Linked DNA regions of Homo sapiens: region 1 is linked to region 2. Evidence: fine-mapped expression QTL. A gene starts in region 2. The other region holds a variant in brackets. All regions are shown on one strand. Distances are between the middles of the regions.

Region 1 (5,387 bases), 38 kb before region 2:
CTCTCCCCATGGCAACTTTTGAAAATTTGTTAAAACGCACACACACGCTCAACCCTCTCAGGCTATCCACAAGCTCTCTAGGTGAGTGGGAACAAATGGCAGCCTATCAGAGAAGTGCACCCAGGACAATTGCACAGTTGTGATCATTTGGGGATCTCATGCAGACTCTCCCTGCAGCCCCCAGTGCACCATCAGGAGTTTCTAAGTACAAAATGAGACAAGGTAGGTGGAGACCAGGGTGTGTGTGTGTGTGTGGGTGTGGGTGTGGGTTTAATTAAGCAAACACTAGTTTGTTCCAATTGCCTTTCCAAATTGATAAGAGATTTCTTATGATGCCAGTAACTGCATAGAAATTGAAGAAAGCAAGCTAAGGCTCTATAGCTTTGGGGCATCTGTGTACTTGTTATATGACTGAATCTAATAGCTGAGACTAGAAGCTGATAGGAGAGTGAGCTTGTTGGGGGAAAGGGGGAATTCATGGAATAGACCGTACCAAGGGTTTGAGGGGCAACCACAGATGACTCAGGACTTTTGGGATGCTGTGGTGACAGTTATGGCACTCAAGTCACAGGAAAACTCATTATATCAACAGAAACCTCCCCTGAATAGATGTACATCTAATTGACATGTGATAAAAGAAATCATGCACATATCCGTTTTTAGTAAGCACTTGCTTTATTTCAAGCACCTCAACTTCCCACTGACATCCCTTTTCTGGGGAGCCTTATTTTAAGATGCCCTTTAAATTAGGTATACATAGGGAAGGAAGCAAAAGCTACAGTGCTCCTCCATGCAGCTTAATTTCTGGGAGAGAAAAAAAAATGGCTGTTTCTGTTTTTCCTTTTTTGCCTCGACACAAGAGTGTCATGCCGAGAATTATGCTGAGGCTAGGATTTAATGGCCATGCCAGGAATTGGAAGCAACAACTATGGACCAGAATGTAAATCCCATGGATGGTTTTACTTGATGCTTTTACGGAGCATGAATGAGGATGTAATTTAAAAATAAGCCCTGCATCCTATTTAAAAAGATAAGAAGGGGCTGGATGTGTGTAAATGTTTGGATTAAATATGACCAAGGACCGTATCGTATTCAAATGGCTTGGCACTTTGAAAATGATGGAATCAGGCTTCATAACGATGCAAGCATCTACCTAATGGAACTAAATTTGCAATAAAGGTGCATAGTGGAAAAGAAGGGCAGACAAGTGGCGCTGAGAATCTAAGTGAGACAGCACCAAAGAATGAAACATACTGAGTTTAAAGACTGACCTTATTGGGATCCTTTCTACTCTGACAATGAGGATGTGAATTATCCTATTATTATAAGCAGGTGGATCATCTTATTAATGTACCCTGGTCTTTCACATTTTTATTTAACTTTAAATCAAATTGAACAATTTCAGGAACAACCTCCCATCCCTCAAAGGAAACAAGCTGATGCCCAGAAATATTTTCTGTGGAGCTTTATATAATTTTTTTTTCTTTCCAGAGACACATTTTCAGCTCTGCCAAACCATAATGCTTAGGCTTTCGTTTGGATATAGCTGAGGTGTCTTGGAAGTTTCTCTGTAAATTCCTTCAAATCCAGAGGAGCTGAATGAGATTCTAAGAGGCTGTGTTCCTCTTAATGATTCCGGATGGAACAGCGTCTTTGGAATTCTGATTTGGATACTGTCAACCACTCGATAGCCCCTGCTCTAAGGGGTGGCAGATGAACCATCATCAAATGTTTTCCAAATTCATCCCTGGTACAACTCTCCCCTTAAACCAAAATTAGGCAGTAAAGTAATATTTGCTTAGAAACACTTACCAGGCACCTGCCTAATAAATGCTACCCTGGCAAAGCCTTCCCACACAAAGAAAATATTTCATCGGAAGGTCAATATCTGCAACTAATGAAAGAAATGGAGCTGTTTCAAACTCACCGACAAAGGTTTCTGTCTCACCCCCCTTTCCACTCTTTTTTCTTTTTGGTTTTGTTTCCTTTCAGCATATTTTAGGAACTAATCAGCCTTATAAAAGGTAGCACTGTTAATCTACTGTTTGTCTTGGTCTTCATCACAGCTCCTTAAGAGATAGAGTGCAAACAAAGCGAGAATTAAGGTCATTCCATTTAAATCCTTCAGAGAGGAAGACAAGGGCTAAGTTATTGCTGAGGACTACAGAGAGGAGGGCTGGAGGAATCCAGGATTAAAAAGAAAAAAAAGAAACCCTCATTGTTTATTATTTGCCAGCCTCAGAGCAGCCCCCATTCCCATATTTGTGAAGGGATTACCCTCCCATCCTCTGAGATTAATGGGAAGCCCAGACAATTCCCTGGCCCACCATGCACCCTGCACCAAAGAACATTTTCCAGAAAGGTGGGCCTGGGAGTGCACTCACTTGGGGGATGAAGAGCGTGACACACTCATCAGCCTGATGTGATTCGTCCTCCAGCTGCCGGAGATGCACAGGCAAACATAACTGCAGAGGGGATTCCATGCTTGCAGAGAAGCAAAACCACATATTAGGAGGTGGCTGTGCCCATGAAAATCTTAGCATGTATCAGATTTAAAGGGTGGAGGGGGTCCAAATAAAACAATAATCCACGCAAAAGCATTTTAGCAGCTTGTAATACTGGCCCCTTTTTTTTTGTAATCCTGATTACAACTCTACTCCCCATATTTTGGGACAGAAGTCAATTTCTTTATTTGTTGCTACCACAGTTCATTGAAGCATTACTAAAATATATTAGCTTTCAACACTAAAAAAATGTGGCAATGGGTTGATCTAAGTGACTAATGCATGGGAAATTTTTTTCTTTAAAGAAGTAAGGCCAGGAAGCAGAAATTGCCATCTACAGCCAACAACAGAGATGCAGATTCTTA[C/T]TTTGGTCACTGAATAAGGTATTTTTCAAATATTCTCCAGTATTTGGCAAGTTTGGCATATAGTAAACGCACAATAAATATTTGTTGCATGAAGAAAAATTTTGGTATTTTTGACTGCTTATACTGAAAACAATAACATGAATGTTTATGGAGCATTTACCACATGCCATGCAGTGTACTAAGCACTTTACTTTCATTGTCTCCCTTAATTTCAACATCAACACCATGAGGGTATTATCTGCATTTTACAAATGAAAAAAAAAAAAAACAAAAGCTCATTGAAGTTAAGTCACTCACCCAAGGTCACATAAGTAATCAGTAGTAAAACCAGCCCGCAGGGCCATACCATGTTCTTAATGCTGTACTGCTGCCCCTTGAAAGCAGCATTTCTTAGCTTGAGCTTAGAAAACACTCAGGATTGCTCCAGATTCAATGTGATTTTATTAGATGGACCAATTATCCTCAGAGAATCAGAGTGCTACCTTTAGCTAAGGTGTAATTGGGAAGAGGCTACCTTCATGGCAACTTCAAATTTTTTCCTTAATTCCCAGAAGAATTTAGCTACTCACAAAATACAATGACAATTCGGTGGTGCTTTGTTGAAAGTCATAGGAACAGATCTCCTGAGAGGAGTGATGCTCCTTCCCTAAGGGATATCCTACCTCCTTACCTCCCTCAGTTACCCTCCCAATCCCTGCACCAGGCGGAGTGTCAAGTTTTCCCAGGCAGGATGAGATCTATACACCCTTGGCATATGGTGGGTTCTGCCTGGCTTTCTGCAGTGTTTGATTATGATTGGCCTAGTTAATTCATTTTGTTGCATGTTCACCCCTCCTTGGAAATTGAACAGGATTAAATTGCATTTATAAAGCCCTGACAAATCACCGTGTGATTGAAATCAGAATAAAGACAAACACTGAGATCATTCTTTGAGGAAATTCTGACAGCATTTCTGGCTCAGCAGGAGTGTTTGTCCAGAGACTCACATTATCTCCTAGCCATTGGGATGCCCAGTTGTAAGCATACTGACTACACAGTAATAAATGTAGGATCTACAATCAAAGACTAACCAGAGTGAAAAGCCATACATGAAATTGTTTCCTCTTGAATAATCCTAAAACCCCATTTTAGCAAATAGTCCAATTTATTCTGTCTCCAAACTCGAGCTCACAAACAAGCTGTCACCAAAGTGGACTGAGTTATACCCATTTATTTAATTTCCCTTCCTTTGAGGAAAGTGCTAGAAAGCCTTATGGTGACCAAAAGAAAGAAGTATAACTAGCATTAAAAATTTAGAAATAACATTTTCTAAGTCAGAAATAATAAAAAGTTCCTGGACATAAAAGTAAGGCATATTTTTATTTTTAGGATATTTTGCTGAGCTATGCAATAATTTCCAGCATGATTGCTTAGCCAGTCTTAGCCGCTCCCTAGTTTGTAATACTGTACTTCCAAATAAATAGGTAAATAAGTAGAAAGAATTAAAAAGGTATTCCCATTTGTGAAATCGCCGTTAATCCCATATAACACTATGAGAAATTTTTACTAATTTCAGTACATGTTTTATTTAGAAATCTTTGGATACTCACTTCATATGGCATAATTTTTGTATTAATAGTATTTTAATATGAGAACCAAATTTTTGAGGATGAGAAACTGGAGCCCACCATCAAAACAAGAATGTCCTGTAATCCCCTTTTATTTCAAAGGTAACTATAGATCTGCTATGAGTTTATGGTAATGATGACTCAGGTTTCTATATTTCACAGTAAGAAAGTTAGTCTCAATTTTTCCGTGAAATGTATCAATCTAGTCATTGGATGACCTTTAGGGCTTTCCTGCTGAACAGGCTGTCATCCCTAGAGAGGTTGAGTATAAAATAAGTGTACTGATATGGAAATATAATAGCTTCCTTTAATGGAAAATTTCATCTGTGAAGAAAACAGATTCTTCTACCCTTTCCCCATTCAAAAGAAAAAAAATAACAAAATACAGTCAATTGAACTTATGATTTCTAGGCACCAATGTTAAACATCACATTTAGGAAATTTCTTATTGCCAGAATGTGCCTCATAATTTGTTTTAAGAAATCATCCCCAAGGTAAGACAAGCACAGAATATAAGCAGACAAACACTAATTTGAAGGGAAAACACTTTGAGAGAGATTGAATCAGCACTTTAGGGTATCAACATTCATTTCTTTACAATGAGGCCTATAAAATATATTATACATCAAACTGTTGTTGATCATTAAAAGATTTCCAGAATACAGAATGGTTACTTAACAATCCTTACACAGCTGTATGTTGTTTGCTTTGTAAGGTGACAACCAACTGGCCACATGTAGATTATTTTATAAGCATCCCTCTGAGGAAGTGTATCGAGATGGCAGACAAAACACATGCATCTACTCCTGGCTCCAACCCAAGAAAAGACAGATATTTTAAAATAATAAATTTAATGAGCATATTAGAAAATAAAAATTTCATCAGCAGACAAGAGATTCTAAGGAATCCTA
Region 2 (5,387 bases):
ATCCACCATTTTACATTGCTACATGTCCCAGAAGAGTCTTAAGGCAATTAGACTAAGTATATGCTATGAATAGATTTCTTTTTAAATTTTAACAGCTTTAAATGACTTTTTCCTAAACCTGAAAAATATTTATCACATTGTGGAAATATACAGAAAAATAATTCAACTGACAACGTATAGGAAAGTAAAGTCGTAAGTAGAAATTTTTGTTATTTGGTGATATTGTAAGAACTGGGAGAAAGTAAATCCAAAGCAAGACATGTGCATGTGACTTCACTGTATTGAACAACTTATCCTCAGTAGGACAAAAGTTTTTCTTTATTCTGATTCCAAAAACCTTATTACAAACCTTTTATTGTTAAGTACTATTTCATATCTATTTTTAAATGATACAATGTATACAAACACAAATAGATAGTTAATAAGGCAATCTTGAAATTTATTAGGTGATTATATCTAAAAGTAGTCATACATTCTTTATATATTTATAATAATTACATGCCTTGTGTCTGTATCCTTGCAAATTTTTATACTGTCTCCAGGTAATTTATTTTATGGAATATTGCCATATGATATATTTCCCTTTCTCAGTGTCCTCAGGAACCCCTGAAATACAAAAGCACTCTTAACACACAGTTTTTTTAATTGGCAAAATAATGGAACTTAGAATGTTAGAATATTGTAATATTCGAAGAATGTTAGAATATTGTAATATTCGAAGAATGTTAGAATATTGTAATATTCGAAGAATGTTAGAATATTGTAATATTGGAAGTTCCATTTATTACACCGATTAAACAGTGTAGAATAACATTGAAGATGTAGATGTCATGCAGTCAAGTCTAAGTCTGCAAAGCCCATTCCCCTCCCTCCCAGGGCCATCATGGTCCCGAGTGGAATCCTAAGGTGACACCTGGAATGTGCCTGCCTCTGAGAGCAGCCTTTTGGCTCCCCAGGCCTCAGTTGCGTTCCTGGAATATGAGAAGTTGCTTGGAATTGCTTTTCCACAGCCTCTGTTGAACCTGTGTCTCTCTCTGTGGATTATGGCTCTGCTCCTTGGTTACTTCAATTTAGAATAGCTTTCTTTTCTAGGTTTGTTTTTTTTGAAATGGGGTCTTGCTCTGTTGTCCAGGCAATAGTGCAATAGTGCAATCATGACTCAACCTCCCAGGCTCAGGTGATCCTCCCACCTCAGCCTCTGGGGTAGTTGGGACTACAGGCACGCACAACTATCCTGACCAATTTCTTATTTTTGGTAGAGAGAGGGTCTCTTGATGTTACCCAGCCTTGTCTTGAACTCCTGGCTTCAAGAGATCCTCCTGCCTTTGCCTCCTAAAGGACTGGGTTACAGGTATGAGCCACCAGACCTTGCCTTATTTTCCAGGTTTTGAGAAGCTACAAGTGAGATAATTATTGCTGCCTGTCTAACCTATTCTCTTCCACACATTGCGGAGGTCACTGGAAGAAACAGTAAATCACAAACTCTTTTTCTTCTATCCATAACTTTTCCTGCCTCATTTAGAATTACCACTCTTGACAACAGGACCCCCCATTTTTGTCTATCACCTTATTAAATCTTCTGTCAAATTGCTTTATTTAAAACATTTTGCAAACTTAGAGAAACTCTGGTTATAACTAAAAATTGTAAGCTGACAGTCATTTTAACTGGTTGCTCTAAGAGGGTGGCAGAATTCCTCTTAAAGAGCAAACTGCTCTTTTGTTGGGAAAGCATTCAGTGGGCTTTTCTGAGTGTGGGGGTGGACCCCAGGAGAGTCTGGGTAGGAGAGGGTCAGCCTGAAAGAGAGCCAAGTTTCTCTGCACCATCAAGTCACAGGAATTTTGGAGTGGGTTCCACCCACCACTGCAGGGCTGAGGAAGGTCAGACCATGAGAGAGAGACATTGAAAACAAAAAGCTTTCTTAGAGTCCAGGGAGCAGGCCCCAGAAATACCCAGTTGAGAGTGCCACCAGTAAGGACTCCTCGAGGGGGAGACTTCAGAAAACTTTAGCAATAGTGTGACCAGGATTCAATTTTAAGTCAGTCCATGTTTTGTGCTATCATTCCTCTACATTGCTCATATAAAACAAGAAAATACAATAACACACTGCTAATCACAAGAGCATTATCATGAAGAAAAGGGTGGTGAGTCCATATTTTGAAGCAAAGCAAACTAGAATGGGCTGGGGCAGCCTGGAAAGGCAGTGGGCAGATGGAGGGAAGAAATTGAAAAAGTCAGGAGCAAGAGAAAAATGGGAAGAACCAAGTCTCAACTCTAGAATCTGCTGGAAAATTGAAGAACACGTTAGACTTCCCACAATTTAGGGGATGGCTGTTAAAGAAAAGGATGGCCTCAGAAGGACAGAAGAGTTAAGGACTTTGGGGTTTTATGGATAATCCTTATATGAAACATTACATGTTTTTTTCACTGCTTAAACAACAGACTTCAGCAATGATGTATGTCAGAGAAATGGGCACAGAAAGTGAGGAAGGACTGTGTGCCTGCAGTTTGTCCCATTAAATTGTGGCAATGAAGGCAGGAAGCCTCGTGTATATTCACATATAATAGTAATAAGAAAAAGATCAACAGAAAGTGATTATGCAACATTCAACATTTTTGCGGTACCCAAAGACTTCATTGAGTTGATTCATCTTAATATTGTCATTTTGATACAAAATATCTTTGCAGGATATTTGTAGGCACAGCTACCCCAAATCCCATTTGCATTAATCTAAAACAGACTTGCAGGCCCAGTTCCAGAAATTCCTTGGGCAAGTCCATAACGCACATTCACCGTCAGGCATGAAGGAATAGCTTATCCAGCAGAAATATCGGAGGCCAGGCCCCAGTACAAACTCCTTCAGACTTCTCAGTACTCAAGACATCTCAAGTTTTTGAAGAGTAAAGTATAAAATACTGGCAGGGGTGGGTAGGGGGAACAGGATAAATTGGTGATGGCCCAGAAAAAATATCCAGGGGGATCGCATTTTTCTTCTCCAAAGCAAAACAGAATTCATAACTGAAAGAGGAATAGAGAAAGAGGAAAAAAGTGATCTGGGACCTGTTGTTTTTCTTGCATCCCATTTCTACTCTGCCTGTGAGTGAAGACTGTTGTGGAAAAGTCAACTGGAGAGACCAGGTCAAAGGCCAAGCAGAAGAGGAATTAGGCTTAAGACTGCACTGAGAGGGAACACTAGACCATGGTGGTAAGTGTTCTTGTTGCATCTGTTGGTCTTTCATTAAATAATGGCATTTCAGCTGGGTTGTAGCCTCCTTAGCTCTCACTCATTGCATCTTTGATGTTTCACCCAAAGGTATAATTATATTGCATTAGTATACTGTTTTGGCCTCTGAAAACCTTAATATTGCTCTCTGGAGAAAGGACAGTTTAATCACTCACATGACATTATGTACATATGTATGTATTTGTATCGTTTTCTTAACTGAAAGTCCTTCTCCCACCTCCTTGACACTCCCAAACTGCTATTTGCTACCCACATTTGTCTTCTGTTGTTGGTTCTTTTCTTTCTACATGAATTTAATACACTTATGGGAATAAAGCTCTTTCTGAAATTGGGAGAAGCCCTCCCAAGTTGTCATCCCAGTTGCCAACTTGGAAACCTGTTTAATTCTGGAAGAAAACCACAACAATCATGTCTCATTTTGGAAAGTATCTTTCAGAGGACATAATCAAAGCAAATTACAAATACAAATTTCTAACTAGGTTTTCTTAGTGTTCAATGAAGTTACTCCAGTGATCCCAAAGACAAGTTAAATATAGCTGTAGGCCCAAGATCATAGAGTTAATTGGTAGATAAGTCATAACTCTAAGGAGTGGGTTCTTCCTCCTTTCTTTCTGTATCCAGCAAATGACTTAATAATTTATAAAACTACATGCTTCTGTCGGGCATATCGGGCATTTTGCTAGGCATAGCCTATATGATTTTAAGCCACATGAACTTTTGAGTTTTTGCAACTGGCTGGGACCTATTTTATGACATTTCATAGAAAGTGCTGTGGTTCTTATGTTCTTCCCAACGTGGAAATGTGATTTCAGGTAGGGTTGAAATCAAGATACTGACTCCTGAACTTCCATCTCTAACCATAATGGGATGACTGATACTGTACTAGCCCAAAACTACTCTAAAACGGGACAGAATATGTGAAGCATCCGATTTCAGGCAGTGGATAACAAGCACTGTAAGGCTGTGCTCCTTGAGAGAAGGGAAGTGCATGAGGTAAGCTACATGATTGCCTCAGCTCTGTGCCTGGAGACAATTTCCTGACCATGGTACAGAGACCTGGAGTCTGAGCAGAGCATGGCAGTCCTGTTGAGCTGGGGAGGCAGACATCAGCGTTCAGGGTAACTGAAGCAAGTAGAAACTATGGAGCCTGAATGGAGGGAGCTATGTAGAGAGAGAGGACCCCAGAATCCAGCAGGGATCTCCTGCAAATCAGTGACTGAGAGTTGGATTGTACATGTGCAGTGTGAGGCGACCCGAGCTTTACTAGATGTCAGATGCTATGCAGTTGAAAGTGGAACCAAGATTCTAGAGGTTGAGCAGTGCTTGGGGAAAAGCAGTGGCAGAGATGTCAGAGTTCTGGCCCTGCCAGAGAGGAGAGATTTATTAACATCTTGTTAAAACTCCTGACATCCAGCTCTGAGACACCACAAAGTGCACATATTAGGATTAAGGAATATGCCCCTTGAGAAAGACCAACTCTAGACTCACCCCAACAAAGCCTGAAACCAAACCCCGACAAGATTTATACAGGAGACACAGTTTGGAAAGTGACTACTGAAAGGTTAGAAGATCTTGAAAACACCTTGGACTGTCCACAGATCTATACTAGCAATGCAAAACACTAAGTCTACACAAGTTAAAGTAATAAGCCATTAAATGAACTGCCACCTCAAATATGAAACAACCATTTTTAGAGGAAGACTACAGAATCTAGACTATCTACAGTGTGTTGTCCACAGTGTTCACTATTTAATCACTAGACATACAAATAAAAATCACATTAAAAGACTCAAAAATATGATCTTAATGAGTAATCAAATGGAAAACAGCAGATAAATGGAAACTACAAATACAACTATATGAACATTCTAGAACTGAAAAGTATAGTAACTGAAATAAAAATTGAGCCTAACAGCAGATCAGACTTAACATAGAGAGTCAATGAACTTAGATACAAACCAATAGACATGCCTGAATCTGGAGAGTAGAGAGAAGAAAAATAAGCAGAGTTTCAAGGAGATAATATCAAGCAGCCTAGCTTACAGGTAATTGAGTCCTAGTAGAAGAAAATAATTTGAGGCAAAAATAATTGGAAGAAATCATGGCCCCGAACTCCCCACATTTGAAGAGAAACACTGACTTAC

What was found.
Region 1: its variant is fine-mapped to the expression of PTCSC3 in lung (TOPMed, PIP above 0.99).

The regions. Positions count from the first base shown.
Region 1 is chr14:36,212,056-36,217,442 of GRCh38, reverse strand. No RefSeq gene overlaps it. Among named protein-coding and RNA genes, the nearest start is that of PTCSC3, 38 kb to the right of the region's middle. The variant C/T (reference allele first, on the strand shown) is at 2,870.
Region 2 is chr14:36,174,115-36,179,501 of GRCh38, reverse strand. PTCSC3 (papillary thyroid carcinoma susceptibility candidate 3) reads left to right here and starts at 2,780. Exons shown (of 4, transcript NR_049735.3): 1 at 2,780-3,204.